Linked DNA regions of Homo sapiens. The protein of the gene in region 2 purifies or fractionates together with the protein of the main gene of each other region. This does not show direct contact. Each region holds a gene or a part of one and is shown on either strand. Other genes may lie near its edges.

The links. Proteins that work in one complex are often made in the same cells at the same time.
Region 1: the proteins of PPP1R7 (region 2) and ARHGEF1 fractionate together in Homo sapiens (co-fractionation; one large-scale study listed by BioGRID). This does not show direct contact.
Region 3: the proteins of PPP1R7 (region 2) and PPP1R2 fractionate together in Homo sapiens (co-fractionation; one large-scale study listed by BioGRID). This does not show direct contact.
Region 4: the proteins of PPP1R7 (region 2) and PACS1 purify together in Homo sapiens (affinity purification with mass spectrometry; one large-scale study listed by BioGRID and IntAct). This does not show direct contact.

The regions. Positions count from the first base shown.
Region 1 is NC_000019.10:41,896,684-41,900,259, forward strand, and holds part of ARHGEF1 (rho guanine nucleotide exchange factor 1), read left to right. Parts: intron 1-631; coding exon of another isoform or gene 632-643; intron 644-1,262; coding exon of another isoform or gene 1,263-1,430; intron 1,431-1,758; coding exon 1,759-1,904; intron 1,905-3,576. UniProt on the Homo sapiens protein: Seems to play a role in the regulation of RhoA GTPase by guanine nucleotide-binding alpha-12 (GNA12) and alpha-13 (GNA13) subunits. Acts as a GTPase-activating protein (GAP) for GNA12 and GNA13, and as guanine nucleotide exchange factor (GEF) for RhoA GTPase.
Region 2 is NC_000002.12:241,180,467-241,184,936, forward strand, and holds the end of PPP1R7 (protein phosphatase 1 regulatory subunit 7), read left to right. Parts: intron 1-2,180; coding exon 2,181-2,357; 3' UTR 2,358-3,186; downstream 3,187-4,470. UniProt on the Homo sapiens protein: Regulatory subunit of protein phosphatase 1.
Region 3 is NC_000003.12:195,526,250-195,529,825, forward strand, and holds part of PPP1R2 (protein phosphatase inhibitor 2), read right to left. Parts: coding exon 3,545-3,576; intron 1,654-3,544; coding exon of another isoform or gene 1,509-1,653; intron 1-1,508. UniProt on the Homo sapiens protein: Inhibitor of protein-phosphatase 1.
Region 4 is NC_000011.10:66,241,272-66,245,320, reverse strand, and holds the end of PACS1 (phosphofurin acidic cluster sorting protein 1), read right to left. Parts: intron 3,895-4,049; coding exon 3,668-3,894; intron 2,410-3,667; coding exon 2,290-2,409; intron 2,157-2,289; coding exon 2,041-2,156; 3' UTR 577-2,040; downstream 1-576. Other genes in the region: uncharacterized protein LOC124902694, read left to right, coding at 209-272. UniProt on the Homo sapiens protein: Coat protein that is involved in the localization of trans-Golgi network (TGN) membrane proteins that contain acidic cluster sorting motifs.

The DNA of each region.
Region 1 (3,576 bases), on a different chromosome or scaffold from region 2:
CCTTTTATCCTTCCTTTTTCCTCTGCTCCTTCCTCTCCTTCCTTTTTTCACTAATCCTTCTCCTCCTCCCTTCCTCTCCACCACTCCTTCCATCTCCTTTATTTCCCCCTCCTCTCTCACCTCCCCTCTCCTCTCTCACCTCCCCCATCCTCTCTCACCTCCCCCCTCCTCTCTCACCTACCCCCTCCTCTCACCTCCCCGCTCCTCTCTCACCTCCCCTCTCTTCTCTCACCTCCCTCTTCCTCTCTCACCTCCCCCCTCCTCTCTCACCTTCCCCCTCCTCTCTTTCCTCCCCACTCCTCTCTCACCTGGGTTTTCTTTCCCCACCTTCCATCCCCCTCCGATCTCCCTGCCACTTTTCATTTTTTCAGCCCTTCCTCCCCTTCTCTTTCAAGCCCCCCTGCCCCCTGCCCCCCACCCCCCGCCTCGCTCCTGCCTCCTGGTGCCCGTCCCTCAACCCCCCACCCCTCTGCTCTGTGCCCTGGGGGCCCTGTCCCCCTTACAGCTGGGGGGCAGGCTCTGCCTCCTGCCCGTCCTTGTGCCGCTGCTTTGGGGACCCTTTGGTGGGTGCGGGGAGGTGGGTCAGGTTCCATCTGGGCCCACCTCTGACCCTGTGCCCCTCTCTCCCCAGAAGGTGGAAGAGGTGGGTGCCTGGGCCCTGGGTGGGGGAAGGGCTAGCCCCTCCCCCATTTCTCCCAGCCCCTCCCCTCTCCCCATGGCCACTCCCTCCCCTTCACTCCCTGTGAGGGGTGGGTGGGGACATCACCCTCCCAGTTGAAGAGCTAAGTATGGAAATCCTCCCCACCCCATAACACCCCCTCTGTTGCCATCCCCCTGCCTCAGGGAAGGGAGGGGGTCAGTCCTATGCTCCATCCTGGGTTCCCCATCCCTTCCCCCATCAAATTTCAGTATCCCCCCTCCCCCAAGACCCCCCACTACCCCAGTGCCCCTAAAATCCCACCACTCCTCTGACTCTCTCCTCTCTTCTGTTGCATGTTTGATCCCTGTCCTGGTCACCCTTGCCCCGGTCCTGGTCTCTCCCTGTCTCTGTCCCTGTCCTGGTCTCTCCCCGTCTCTGTCCCTGTCCTCGTCTCTCCCCAATTTCTGTCCCTGCCCTGGCCTCTCCCCACCTCTGTCCCTGCCCTGGTCTCTCCCCGTCTCTGTCCCTGTCCTGGTTTCTCTTCGTCTCTGTTCTTGTCTTGGTCTCTCCTTGTCTCTGTCCCCGGCATCTGCCTGACTCTGTCCTTGGCCTCGGGGTCCAGGCTATCAGGGCGTCTGGGGCGCTCAGAGAGCCTGCGGGTGAGTGACCGCCGCCGGCCTTCCCGGGGCAGCCTCGGGGCTAAGGGCCGGGGTGGGGGCCGCTCCCGGAGCGACGTGGACATGGACCCCAGTTCCGCCACGGCAGTGCTTGGCCCTGCCCGACGAGCCACGTATGTCAACCCTCTCCCTTCCCCCATCCACTAAGGCAGCCTGGAGAATCAGGGAGGGATTGTTGTCAGAGTCACAGAGGAATGGGCGTTGGAGACCGAGGTCATTGAGGCCAACTGTGGTCACAGACCTTGGAGGAGGAGGGGGTAGAATGCTTCTAGAGATCTGGGAACTCTAGTGTGGTCCGATCTAGAGACCTGGTCTGCTGCACGGGCCACCCTGCGGGCATCGAATGCCAAGGCCACTGACCGGGGTTGAACGCTCTAAGAGGCTGAAGGCTGCTTCTTGGGATGGCCCAAGCTGGGGCCCTAACAAGGCCTCTGTCCACAGCCCCGAGCCTGGAGATGAGGGGGAGCCGGGGCGGTCGGGACTGGAGCTTGAACCAGAAGAGCCTCCCGGCTGGCGGGAACTCGTCCCCCCAGACACCCTGCACAGCCTGCCCAAGAGCCAGGTGAAGCGGCAGGAGGTCATCAGCGGTGAGTACTGCCCCCATCACCCCACTGTGGCCAAGGACACAGTCCAGCTCTGGCAAAGGCAAAGACAGGCGCAGAGAGATGTTCATCTTGGTGTCATTTACCATCGGGAGAACTTGAAGGCAGCTTCAAATTCCCTCTTGTTCCAAGTTCAGATTGTTTCAACACAGAGCATTTTGATGGAATGTGAATGCCACTGTGGAAGGGACATTTCCAAACATTTCTAGTAGTGCAATACAGTGCTGATGTTGAGAACACTGCATTTCTGGTGCAAGCTTTTATTTCCTTGCTTGTGAAATGTGGGCATTAATAGTTCCTACCTCAGATATTGTCATGAAGATGAGATGATTTGTGTGAAATGTTTAGCATAGTGCTGGGCACAGAGGAAGAGCATTTTATTTTATTTATTTTTTTAAATTTTTATTTGAGGCAGAGTCTCAGTTGGTCTCTCAGGCTGGAGTGCAGTGGCACAATCACGGCTCACTGCAGCCTTACCCTCCCAGGCTCAACTGATCCTCCCACCTCAGCCTCCCGAGTAGCTGAACAGGCATGTACCACCATGCCTGGCTAATTTTTGTATTCTTTGTAGAGATGGGGTTTCGCCATGTTGGCCAGGCTGGTCTCGAACCCTTGGGCTCAAGTGATCCTCCTACCTCAGCCTCCCAAAGTCTTGGGATTACAAGTGTGAGCCACCAGGCCCAGTCAAGGAAGAGCATTTTAATGAGATTGTTGTTACTAGTTTGATCTTAATTGCTTAGGGGAGAAAAGATCCCCACAGGGGAAAGTTTGGGAGAATGATCAGTATATTAGCAGTGCTTGCTTCTGCGTGGAGAGATGATGAGTGTATCATTTTTGTCTTTTTCCTTTTTTCCTTTGCTAATTGTGTGGTGGCTAGGGAGGCTGGTGGCAAAAAGAGAAAGCTTTTTTTTTTTTTTTTTTTTTAAGACAGAGTTTTGCTCTTGTTGCCCAGGCTGGAGTGCAATGGCACAATCTCGGCTCACCACAACCTACGCCTCCCAGGTTCAAGTGATTCTCCTGCCTCAGCCTCCTGAGTAGCTGGGATTACAGGCATGTGCCACCACGCCCGGCTAATTTTGTATTTTTAGTAGAGACGGGGTTTCTCCATGTTGGTCAGGCTGGTCTCGAACGCCCGCCTCAGCCTCCCAAAGTGCTGGGATTACAGGCGTGAGCCACTGTGCCTAGCCCAAGAGAAAGGTTTGGGACTTGACTGAAAGCTTATTTACAGATTACTTCATAGTGAAAAAGATACTTATTCAAAAATTTTAGGGGAGTAGTTGAGTACTTTTTGGGTCACAGATCCTTCTAAGGACATGATAAAAAAAAAAAAAAACATGAGCCATGTGCTACCCATTAGGACTTTCTGGAAGATGGAAATGTGCTTTATTTGTACTGCTCACCATGGGGACCATCGGCCACCTATGGCTGGTGAGCACTTGAAATGCACTAGGCCAGGCACAGTGGCTCATGCCTGTGATCCCAGCACTTTGGGAAGCCGAGGTGGGCAGATCACTTGAGGTCAGGAGTTCGAGACTAGCCTGGCCAACATGGTGAAACCCCATCTCTACTAAACATACAAAAATTAGCCAAGCATAGTGGCGCATGCCTGTAATCCCAGATACTCGAGAGAGTAAGCCAGGAGAATTGCTTGAACCCA
Region 2 (4,470 bases):
GCCTCATTCAAAGCCATCCTAGGCCATTTACAGCCTGCAGGCCGTGGGTTGGACAAGCTTGGTTTAAGGCGTGTGTGTGCATCATTTTCGTGACTCTCCACTTTAAGGGGCTCTTTCTGTTAACTGACCAGTGACCGGCCAATCACAGGCCTGGCAGGTGGATGGCTTCCCCTGTAATTCTAGTGTTGCAGGCTCTGCACTGGCCACACAACCAGCGGGGCGGTGCGAGTGTAGTAACAGAGTAGCATTTAAGAAGGTACGCTCACGTCCCGTCCACATGGAGGCACTGGTCGGGACAGCAGCAGCAGGGCACCAGCCCTGGTGGTGCAGCTCCTCCCAGCAGGTGTCAGTCCCTCTTCAAGGGCTAAGCTCTAGGATTTGGAATTCTTGGTTTCCCAAGGCTGGTACGCACTAGTCCCACAAAAGGTTCTGTGAAAATAGGGTCCCTCAGGCCAGGCGCAGTGGCTCACGCCTGTAATCCCAGCACTTTGGGAGGCTGAGGCGGGTGGATCACTTGAGGTCAGGAGTTCAAGACCAGGCTGGCCAACGTGGTGAAACCCCATCTCTACAAAAATACAAAAATTAGCCGAGCATGATGGCGAGTGCCTGTAATCCCAGCTACTTGGGAGGCTGAGGTGGGAGAATCGCTTGAACCCAGGAGGCGGAAGTTGCAGTGAGCAGAGATTGCCCCATTGCACTCCAGCCTGGGCGACAGAGCGAGACTCCCTCTCAAAAAAAAGAAAATAGGGTTCCTCAAACAGGCAAACCTGTGAGATGCACGTTATATTCCTCTCTGGGAAGCCCCTGACACACGGTAAGTTACTAAAGACAGCCTGGCTGTGACAGTGGACCTGGTGCAAAACTAGCCCTCCTGCCACAGACAGATAGAAAAATATGAAACAACTCTATTCAGGCAGTGGACAGCAGGCAGCACGCACCTGCAGGCTCTGAGGAGGGAGTTCCAGCGCGAGCCCCGTGATCACCCCACTCCTTACCTGGGATGTTTCCCAAGCAGAACACAGTACTTCTGAGTGGAAGAGGCAGAGATCAACATCTCTGGCAGCTAGAGTGTGCCAGACAGGGCCCCAGAGAGAAGGGGAGCTGTGCAGAGCAGAGGTCCAGAAGTCCATGCAGGGACCCCCCAGTCGGACCACAGCTGTGGGCAGGGCAGTGGGCAGTGTGGGCCCCAGAGTAGAACGCCCCTGCTTGCCTTCCGTTCCACATGGACAGTTCCCTTCCTAACTTCCCTGTAAAAGGAGTCGAAGTCTGTCACCCTATAACGAGTGCCCCTGCCTGTGCCCATTGTAGGTTCACAGTCAAGTCCAGCTGCCTCTTCAGGAGCAGTGCCCGTGCTCTTGCCACCGCGGTTTGCCTGGCAGGCCCTGAGGCCGGGCAGCTCTGAACATGTGATTTCTACACACAGGGTGTTTGAAAGGGAGGGTCAGACCAACAGGGTTTGAAGCTGGACTGGCTCCCCTTGTTCTGGAGATGGCACCACTGCACTCCAGCCTGGGCGACAGAGCGAGACTCTGTCTCAAAAAAAAAAAAAATGCAAGAGAACTCTTCCTGCCAAAGGCAGGTCCCTCCAACTGGGCATGGCAGGGCCAAGATGGTAAAATGTAGCCTGCAACTCAGACCTCTGAATCCCACCTGCTCACGATTTGTGTCCCTGCACTTGGTATTGGGTGAAAGCAGCAGCTGGGACTTCCTTGTGGAGAGAGCCATAGAGGTAATTTACAGAAGAGTTGAGAGTTTTAAGTAGAGCGGCCTCTGTCTGCTGTGTCACAGTGATGGCGCAGAGTGCAGCCTTGGGAATGATGGCTGAGAACTGGTTTGTAGAAAGTGCAGCCCACCCTGCTTTGACACTTGCCTATGGACAAGTGTAGCAGGCAGGTGGCCAGAACTGCTTTGTCCTTCCTCTGCTGACCTGAATGTGGACTTGGCCCCGTCATAGTGACTGGCCCAGGGTTGGCTATGGACAGGTAACTTGTACTTGGGATGCAGCTGAAGGTGGCCAGGATGCACCAAGAGGCCATGGAAGGTCCCATGAGGTGCCAGGGAAGACCCACACCTGCTCGCCATCTTCTGAGTGGGAAGGAGGAGGGTGGCTAGTGGACCCCACCAGAGTCGAGGGCTGGGCTGTTTGGTTCTAAAGGCTTTTCTGCTGTGTGTGTCCCCAGATGAACGACAATCTCCTTGAGAGCTGGAGCGACCTCGACGAGCTGAAGGGAGCCAGGAGCCTGGAGACAGTGTACCTGGAGCGGAACCCCTTGCAGAAGGACCCCCAGTACCGGCGGAAGGTCATGCTCGCCCTCCCCTCCGTGCGGCAGATCGATGCCACGTTCGTCAGGTTCTGAGTCCTTCTTGGCTCCTCATGTGGTCCCTCTCCTCGGAAGAACTGCCCAGCCACGGGTTTTTAACCCACCTGTTGCTCCTGAGGTCGTCACTATATCAACAGTCACAAACCCAATGGCAATAAAGGCACTGACGATAGCTGGCGCGCGCGACGTCACACACCATTTTCAGATGCCGTTGCAATTAAATCTTGCCACACTGTCCTCCTGGGTGATTGTTGACAGTTATTGTAGCCACAGAGAGAACATAAGACACGTTGCGTTCATTCGCTAGAAATCCCTGTTTCCTTCTCTCAGAAGGCAGTCACAGTCCCTACCTGAGTCGTGTGAAACACAGGGCCTGAGAGTGCTTTACAGGCATTCACGTGCTGTCCGAGTGGCATTCGGGGGCTGGCCTAGCTGGCCCTAGTCCTGGTGTGCAGGGTTCAGGCAGTCTTGACCTGCAACAACCGAGGTTTTTTAGTCTTTTAACCCAGCCATTTTCAATTTTTTAAAAATTAGGTAAGTTAAAAAAGCTGGGTAAAAGCTGACTCAGCCCTGTGTGCTTGTGTTCCTTAGAGCTCTCCTTCAAAGAGCGCCGGGCAGGGCTGACTGTTTTCACGTGTGCCCGTCAGTTCTCGCCACATCCCTTGCCTGTGGGTGAAAGCTCAGGTGTGGGGAGGGTGTCCTGTGTCCCACACGGTGCTGTGCTGCTGCCAGAATACGAGTCCCATTGAGCCTCTCCAAAGACGGCCTCCAAGGATCTGAACTCTTGGCCACTGGTATAGTGGCCTCCTGTTCTCACCCCATTGTTATTTTGGCTTTTTTAATATAAAATGTACATTGACAGACACCCGAAGTCTGGATTTAATGCTACCAGGGCATCGTCACCTCCCAGGGTCTCAGATTTCTCCTCCTGCAGAATGAGGGCCACATCATGTGGTCACCAAGGTCCCTTCTGCCTCCGGGACTCTAGACTCTAGAACCGTCTACTTGAGGAACCAGGACTCTAGAACCGTACTGTCCAATGTGGGCGAGGCTGCAGTGAGCCATGATTGTACCCACTCCAGCCTGGGTGACAGAGGGAGACCCTGTCTCAAGTTTTAAAAGGCTCCAAATTAATACCCAGCCATCTGTTCTTTAACAGACATTTTTACAAACATACAAAAAATGTGGAAGTGATGAGGAAAGGTATGCTAAATCCAGCACAATCCTAATCAAAATGCCATTTGATTTTTTTTTTTTTTAAGGAGTCATTCTCTGTCACCCAGGCTGGAGTGCAATGGCGCAATCTCAGCTCACTGCAGCCACCACCTCCCAGGTTCAAGCGATTCTCCTGCCTCACCCTCCCTAGTAGCTGGGATTACAGGCACCCGCCACCACACCCAGCTGATTTTTGTATTTTTAGTAGAGATGGGGTTTTGCCATGTTGCCGGGCTGGTCCCAAACTCCTGACCTCAGGTGATTCGCCCACCTCAGCCTCCCAAAATGCCGGAATTACAGGGGTGAGCCACCGCACCCAGCCACCATTTGATTTTTTGAGACACATTAAATTCTAAAATTTAATTTTTTTTCCTTTTTTTTCTGAGACAGAGTCTCGCTCTGTCGCTAGGCTGGAGTGCAGTGGCGCGATCTGTGCTCACTGCAAACTCCGCGTCCCGGGCTCAAGCGATTCTCCCGCCTCAGCCTCCTGAGTAGGTAGGACTACAGGCACATGCCACCACACCCAGCTAATTTTTATATTTTTAGAAGAGACGGGGTTTCACCATGTTGGCCAGGATGGTCTTGATCTCTTGACCTCATGATCCACCTGCCTCTGCCTCCCAAAGTGCTGGGATTACAGGAGTGAGCCACCGTGCCCGGCTTTTTCTTTTTCCTTTTTTGGCGAACAGGGTCTTGCTATATTGCCCAGGCAAGTCTCAAACTCCTAGGCTCAAGCTGTCCTCCCACCTCTGCCTTCCTAAAAGCTGGGATTATAGGCATGAGCTACCGTGCCCGACAAATTCTAAAATGTATATGGAAGAAAAAAGTCAACATTGTGATTCAATTCATTTTGAAAAAGAGCTGGGAGAGACGCTTTCCTACCAGATCCTGAGTGCTGCAAACCCACAGTGAGAGTGTGGGGGGAGGCCTGACC
Region 3 (3,576 bases), on a different chromosome or scaffold from region 2:
CATTCCTGGCTTAATTCTTTTTATTTTTTGTAGAGACGGGGTCTCTCTATGTTGCCCAGGCTCATCTCCAATTCCTGAGCTCAAGCAATCCTCCCACCTCAGCCTCCTAAAGTGCTGGGATTACAAGGATGAGCTACCATGGCTGGCCAAATGAAACTCTCAAAAAGAAAAAAGAAAGTCATGGAAAGAAATGATAAAACTGAGCAGTGAACTGATAAAAGCAGGACACAGGTTATCTCTGCATGCACATAGCCTCAATTACTTAGGGACCAAATAACTTTTCTGGTTATTTGAATGGCAAATATCTACCATTCAAATTATATTTATAAACAGTCAAAAAATAATGGCCATAGCTATTCTGAAATTTTTTTTCTTTTTCTTTAGAGATAAGGTCTCCCTCTGTCATCCAGGCTGGAGTGCAATGACGTGATCATGGCTAATTGCAGCTACAACCTCCAGGGCTCAGACAGTCCTCCTGCCTCAGCCTCCTAGCTAGCTGGGACTACAAGTACACACCACCACCTCTGGATAATTTTACTTTTTTTATTTGAGACAGAGTTTCGCTCTGGTTGCCCAGGCTGGAGTGCAATGGCGCGATCTCAGCTCACTGCAACCTCTGCCTCCCAGGTTCAAGTGATTCTCCTGCCTCAGCCTCCCGAGTAGCTGGGGTTATAGGCGCCCACCACCACATCTGGGAATTTTTATGTATTTTCAGTAGAGACGGGGTTTCACCATGTTGGCTAGGCTGGTCTTGAACTCCTGACCTTAGGTGATCCACCCGCCTCAGGCTCCCAAAGTGCTGGGATTACAGGCGTGAGCTGCTGTGCTTAGTCTAATTTGTTTTAATTTTTTTTGTGGAGATAAGAGTCTCACTCTGTTGCCCAGGTTGGTCTTGAACTCCTGGGCAAGAGTTCTTTGGGGAAGGGCGTGGTGGCTCATGCCTGTAATCCCACACTTTGGGAGGCTGAGGTGGGTGGATCACTTGAGGTCAGGAGTTTGAGATCAGCTTGGCCAACACGGTGAAACCCTGTCAATACTAAAAATACAAAAACTAGCCAGGCGTGGTAGTGGGTGCCTGTAATCCCAGCTACTTGGGAGGCTGAGGCACGAGAATCTCTTGAACCTGAGACATGGAGCTTGCAGTGAGCTGAGATCGTGCCACTGCTCTCCAGCCCGGGTGACAGAGTGAGACTCTGTCTCAAAAAAATAAAAAATAAAAAATAAAAAACAGCATTCTTTGGGAGGCTAAGCGATCCTCCTGCTTCAGGCTCCCAAAGTGCTGAGATTACAGGCGTTGAGCCACTGCACCTGGCCTCAACTATTTTTTTAAATCATGTCTGATCTTAATTCTCCTAGGATACTTATCCCCAACTAACACAAGTGAGTGACGGATGGCCACTACATTTAGTAAAAAGAAAGTACACTCTGATTTTGGATTCTGGTACAATAAAGGTTTTAATATACATTTTAGAAGTTGGGCACGGTGATGTGTGCCCATAGTCAGCTACCTGGGAGGCGGAGGAGGGAGGATCACTTGAGTCGGGAGTTCCAGGCTGTAGTGTGCTATAACTGTGCCTGTTAATAGCCACTGCACTGGGCAACATAGCCAGATCTTGTATCTTTTTTTTTTTTTAAGATTTTTAAAGTATATACCTGCAATTTAGGAGAAAAATAAGAATATAAACCTCTTTTTAGCATGCGTATTTTTTTTTAACTAATTGTAATTTTATTGTTTTTCTTCCCCTCAATTTATTTTTACTTCAATAGGTTTTTGGGAAACAAGTGGTGTTTGGTTACACAGGTAAGTTCTTCAGTGGTAATTGCTGAGATTTTGGTGCACCCATCACCCGAGCAGTGTACACGGCACCCAATGTGTAGTCTTTTATCCCTCAACCCCCTCTCACCCCTCCCATCCCCAAAGTCCACTGTATCATTCTTATGCCTTTGCTTAGCTCCCGCTTATAAGTGAGAACATACAAGGTCTGGTTTTCCATTCCTGGGTTACTTCACTTAGAGTAATGGTCTCCAACTCCATCCAGGTTGCTGTGAATGCCATTATTTTGTTCCTTTTTATATATATTCCATGGTACATACATATATACCACAAAAAACTGTGTATTTCTTCACTCAAATTTCATCAGTATTGAGTTTCAGCATCTGTACCTATTTCATTATTTCTTTTTATGCTCATCAGTCTTTAATATCTTCAAGTTTTTTATTTTTACTGTTTTTGTTAGTAACAGGTTATTTCAAATTATCTTCCAAAGTTTTCACCCACTGACTTAAAATACAGTAGTTCTTAACTCTTCTTTCACTACAGAACAAATGGAAACAGCAGTTACCTCTATTTTAATGGTAACTTTTGGATTTATGCTGTCTTAATTCAATGACAAAATATTTTAATCTTGGAAATCTTTTATTTTTTTCAATACAAGGTAGGTAGGGCATAACTATTTTTTTTTTTTTTTTTTTTTTTTTTTTTTGTAGAAAGAGTCTTACTATGTTGCTTAGGCTGGTTTTGATCTCCTGGCCTGAAGCAATACTCCCACCTCTGCCTCTGTAATCTCAAAGTGCTGGGAGTACAGGCAAGAGTCACCATGCCCAGCCAAGGTATTATCTTTTTTTTTTTTTTTTGAGACAGAGTTTTGCTCTTGTCGCCCAGGCTGGAGTGCAATGGTGTGATCTTGGCTTACAGCAACCTCCGTCTCCCGGGTTCAAGCAATTCTCCTGCCTCAGCCTCCCGAGTAGCTGGGATTACAGGTGCCCGCCACCATGCCTGGCTAATTTTTGTATTTTTTTTTTTTTTTAGTAGAGATGGGGTTTCACCACGTTGGCCGGGCTGGTCTTTCACCTCAGGTGATCCGCCCACTTTGGCCTCCCAAGGTGCTGGGATTACAGGCGTGAGCCACAGTGCTCGGCCCAAGGTATTATCTTAATTAGGTATCTATACCTATTTAGAATCCTCATCTTCTCATAATGCTTCTTGCATTATTTTTGTCTTCATACTGGTTACTGCTGCGTAATGTAATTTCACAATTCATTTAGGAAATTCTGAGACTTGAAATTGTCAAAAATTACATGTAATGATCTGAACAACAATATTACATTAAGTTAAAAAATGAAGACATAAACAGTAATAATGACACCTATCTTTCAGTGGGTTACCATCCATGCAGTTATGCTTCTCTGCAAAGAGACTGAGTAAACCCCAGATTTCTACTTGGGAAGCAAACAAGCCCATATCTCATCTTCCTTTCATGGAAGTTAAAACTAATATATGCACCATTAGTAGCTAGCAACCACTGAGGTGCAACAAATAAACATTTACTACTACCATTATAATGTACAAAATGGCTTTCTTAATTTTAAACTTACACATCACTTAAACCATTACTAAACAAATTGCAGTTAGGTTACTGACTTCACTAGTGCTCCAGTAACAAATCTACAATAAAACAAATTCAAATAGGCTGTTATCCAGACGTTCATATGAAATGCAAAATGGAAGTAAGTCACAAGAGGAATGACGTCTACGTAACATTACCTATGGTAAGGAGTGCTTGGTTCATCTATTTT
Region 4 (4,049 bases), on a different chromosome or scaffold from region 2:
GCGTGAGCCACTGTGCCTGGCCACCTCTGGGCACTTCTTCATGGGGAAGGCACACACTTCTTCGTGTGTGCAGGCCTGTCTTGGAAGCTAGTGGAAAAACCGGGCACCCAGGGGACAGTGGCTACCACTGCTTTCCATCTCTAAGTCAAGGGCGGGCAGGAAAAGGAACTCCACAGATGTCCCTCAGCCCTATTCCCTCCACCTGCAGAGGCAAAGACCCCACTGGCTCGGACTTCACCAACCTGGAGCAGGGGAGAGAAGCTAAGTTCTGACCTTTGATCAGAAGATGGGGAAGCCACACTCAACACGTCACTGCCTTGGGAGGTGGATTTGGGGATGGTGGGTCCTGGGGAAAAACGGGCTTTTGGTGTGGAAATGACATCTTTCCTGTTTCCGACCTCTGCCTGCCTCATGCCAGGTGAGACACCTTCATGCCTGTTTCCATGATTGAGAACATGGGAGTACGCTTCTTTCCACCTACGTTCCTGGTGGATTTTCACTGGAGTTGGGCTGCACTGTGGAAAAGGGGTTGGGCAGCTCCTGTGGCACAGTGAGGGGGCATAGAAGCCCAAGGCAGTCGGTAAGAAATCACCAATTTATTGAATGAAAAACCCAACATCAACTCAGTCCCTCCCACCCCCATCTCCTCTCTCTGGCCCAGGAGACGCTCAGGACAGCAGGGCTGAGCCCTGGGAAGGGCTGGAGGAGAGCTTGGGGGAGGTATGGAGAATGAGAAAAACACTTTCAAAATGAAGTTCTGTGCAAAAACTTCTGGGAAGGAGTGAGAGGACAAGAGAAAAGCTCCAAAGGGGCTGTGGGGCGCAGATGGCCGGGCTGGGGGGTGCAGAGGGCTGGGCTGGGGCCCTGTGTCCTCAACCACTCCTGAGAACACGGACGGTCAGGAATGAGGGGCTCAGACCCCGGGTTGGTGAGAGGGAGGTGACAGGGAGGGAAGGAGCCTGCTGGAGGGAAACCTGGCTGGGAGGATGGGTCTGGGCCCAGGCTGGGGCCTAAGGAGGGGGAAGAACAGAGCAGGGAAAGGCAGAAAAACTGACACGGTGGGAGGAGGGAGATGAATGGGAGATGAAACAGAATGTCTGAGGGGCCACAGACAGCATGTATGGTGGTGGGGGTCTGCCTCCCATCTCTCCAAGTCCAGGCAGAGCTGTGCTGGGTGAGGGGCTGGGAGGCAGAGGCAGGAGCATCATTAACAAGGGTGGAAGCCACGAAGACAGCGACCAGTGCACAGGGTGTGTCACATGGTACAACCAAGAGACTTGGCGTGCAAAGAACCAAAGAAACACTCAGGACACACACGACATCTGCAGGGAACCTGGGGGTGGTGAGGAAGTCGTGCACGGGTGGTGGGGGGAGACTGGGAGGCCCCTCTGTCCTAGAAACGCTGTGTCACCATAGCAACAGGGTCCTGGAGGCAGGGGAGCTGCCTCCTGCCCCTGTGAGCTGTGAAGTAGGGGTCCTGTGGGCTCAGGGTGCCCCCTTACCCTCCCTTGAGAAGCTCTGGGGCAGGTGGAGAACCCCATAAGAGTTGAAAGTGGCCTTGGGTCCTGCTGGAGGCAGCAGAGTGAGTGGATCTGGCAGCTGCATCCTAGAGGACACCCTGGTGGCTGGAGGGGCTGGGGGAGGACTAGGCTCTCCTGCTGGGGACCAGGATTCCAGCTTTCTCATTTCCGAGAAGGAAACTGATACCACAAGGAAGAGTTTGGAAGTCGGGTGAAGGAAGGCCTGGGGGACTCAGTCCAGGGGACTATGGGCACCAGAAGGCAAAACCAACACGCCTTGGGCCTGGAGCAGGAGGGAGAAGGGGAAAAGCGGGAAGGAGGAGGGGCTGTGCAGGGGTGGGCTGGAGGGGAGGGGAGGGAAGGCGTCCCTGTGGCAGTGTCCTTCGGGACCTGGGCGAGTGAGAGGCAGACCCTGGTGCCAGGGAAGGGGTGCTGGGCCCGGGCCTGCTGGCCTCCCCCTGCCCGCAGGCGGTGAGGCTGGTGGCAGTGCCAGGAGGGAAAGTGGCTGGGAGACAGGGCCTCAGGTGGCCTTGCTGCCACTGAAGAGTCCCACTGGAAAGTGCTTGACATGGGTGGGCCACTGGGCTGCCAGCTGGAAGAACTTGATGTCACTCCACTCGACCCCATCGATGGACACTAGGGGTGACAGGAGAGGAGGGGTGACCAGACTGCTCAGGCCATCTCCCCAGGGCCCCTTGGGAAAGGCCATTGCCTGCCTCCCTCTCCAGTCCCTTTCTTGCCCTCCTCCCGGCCCTGCCTGCCCTCGCACCTCTCAGCATAGTCTGCTGCTGCTTGGCTGAGCAGATGAGGCGGCTGATGCCTTCAATGACCTGGCTCTTAGAATCCACCTCCTTTTCTCGGGGTTTCTTGCTCAGGAAGATGGTGGGAACTGGAAAGCAAGCAAGGCCACCTGTGTCCCAGCCCCTGGGGAAGCCGCCACCCCTCTCCTCCCCAGCCGACTGTCCCCTTCTTCCTGTGGCGAGGGGAGGTGATCTGCAAACCAACCCCTCCTCCCTGGCACTGGGCTGTGGGTCAGGATCTTCAGGTTCCTGACTCAGTCCCAGCACTGGGCTGGTGACTTTGGCTAAGGTCCCACTTCTCCCCCTGGGGCTCGATATCTTCGCCTGTTCAGTGAAGACCTTGGTCCAGATGGTCTCTGAAGTCCTTTCCAGCTGGAACGTTCTAGGCAGCCTGTGGGGCAGGGGCCTGCCTCCCTATCAGGCGCATGCTCTATGCAGGAGCCAGTGCAGCATGAGTTTGTCCTCACGCTGTCCTGGGGATGCCGGGGAGTGCTCCCTGTTCCACTCCCACTCCAGAAAGGAAGCAAGGGCAGGGAGGTCACTGCTGAGCAGGCAGCTTCCCCTTGCAAGTTTCTGTGCTGCAGGCCGTGGGTTTTGGCTGTGGGCCTGGCACAGCCCCATGCCTGACCCCCCAGGGGAACTCTGCAGAGGGGAGTCACACACAGAAATAGGCACAGCTGCTTTGCAGCACCCAAAGGAGGCGGGGTTGGGGTCATGCCAGTGCTGCAGGTGCACTACCAGTTGCGGGTCCCCAGCTGGCACCAACGGTGGCAGGCGCTGCCGCAGCACTGGCCCAGCCATGGGGGTTCCTGCCTCACTCCCACGCACAGGAGCCGGGCCAGCTCCAACTCCCCTCCAGCTCCTTAAGCTACCCCTGCTATCCAGAATGGACTGTATGCCCCTTAATCCTGAAAACACAACCACGTCCTTTTGCTCATGAGGCCTCTTTGGAGAGGCCTCCAGGGCTGGGTGCAAGTTCTCTACTCCTGCGTCACAGGGACCTGGAGCTGTGATATAGAGAGGCCTCTCCCTGTCTGCAGTCCATCCCGGACAGCAGTGGCCAGAAAGGCCCCCTTCATTACACAGTGGCAGCTGCCTCAGCCCCTAAAGTACTGGAGCTCAGCAGAGAGTGACCAAGCGACTCTCTGCAGCCTCGGTTTCCTGCATGACAGAAGGAATGGCCTTGTCCCTCGAGGGGAGGTGGGACTGCCCCCTCTGCACCCCATGCCAGACCATGGGATGCTTCTTCATCCCAAATATCCCAAAAGCAGATTTATTCCCAGGCCCTGAGAGACGAGACGGGAGGCCTGGTGGCCCATGGTCTTCCCCGGCCTTGGGGGTACTTACCTTTCTTGTTCTTTTCTTTGGTGACCACAGTCATGGCCATGGTGCCAGAAAGCTGGGCCTCCCCACTATGGGGCAGGCGGGACACCTGCACTGAGCGGAAGACACTCTTGAGGGTGTTCTTCGAGCTGGCGTCCCTCTTGTCGCCTTCCCTCCTCCGCTCCCCGGGGTGGCCCAGCCAGTAGTCCACCTGGAGGCCAATCACGTCCCCATATGGGCTATTAGGGCTCCTGAGGAAAGGGAACAAAGAGGAGAGGTCAGCTCTGCCTTCAGCTCCCAACTACATAGGCCTGATGGGGTAGGGGCCATGCCAGTCCCCGGGAGGGCAGGCTGAGGAAGGCTGCAGCTCTGTTCCCTCCAGCCACACAGAGCAGCTCATGTAGGA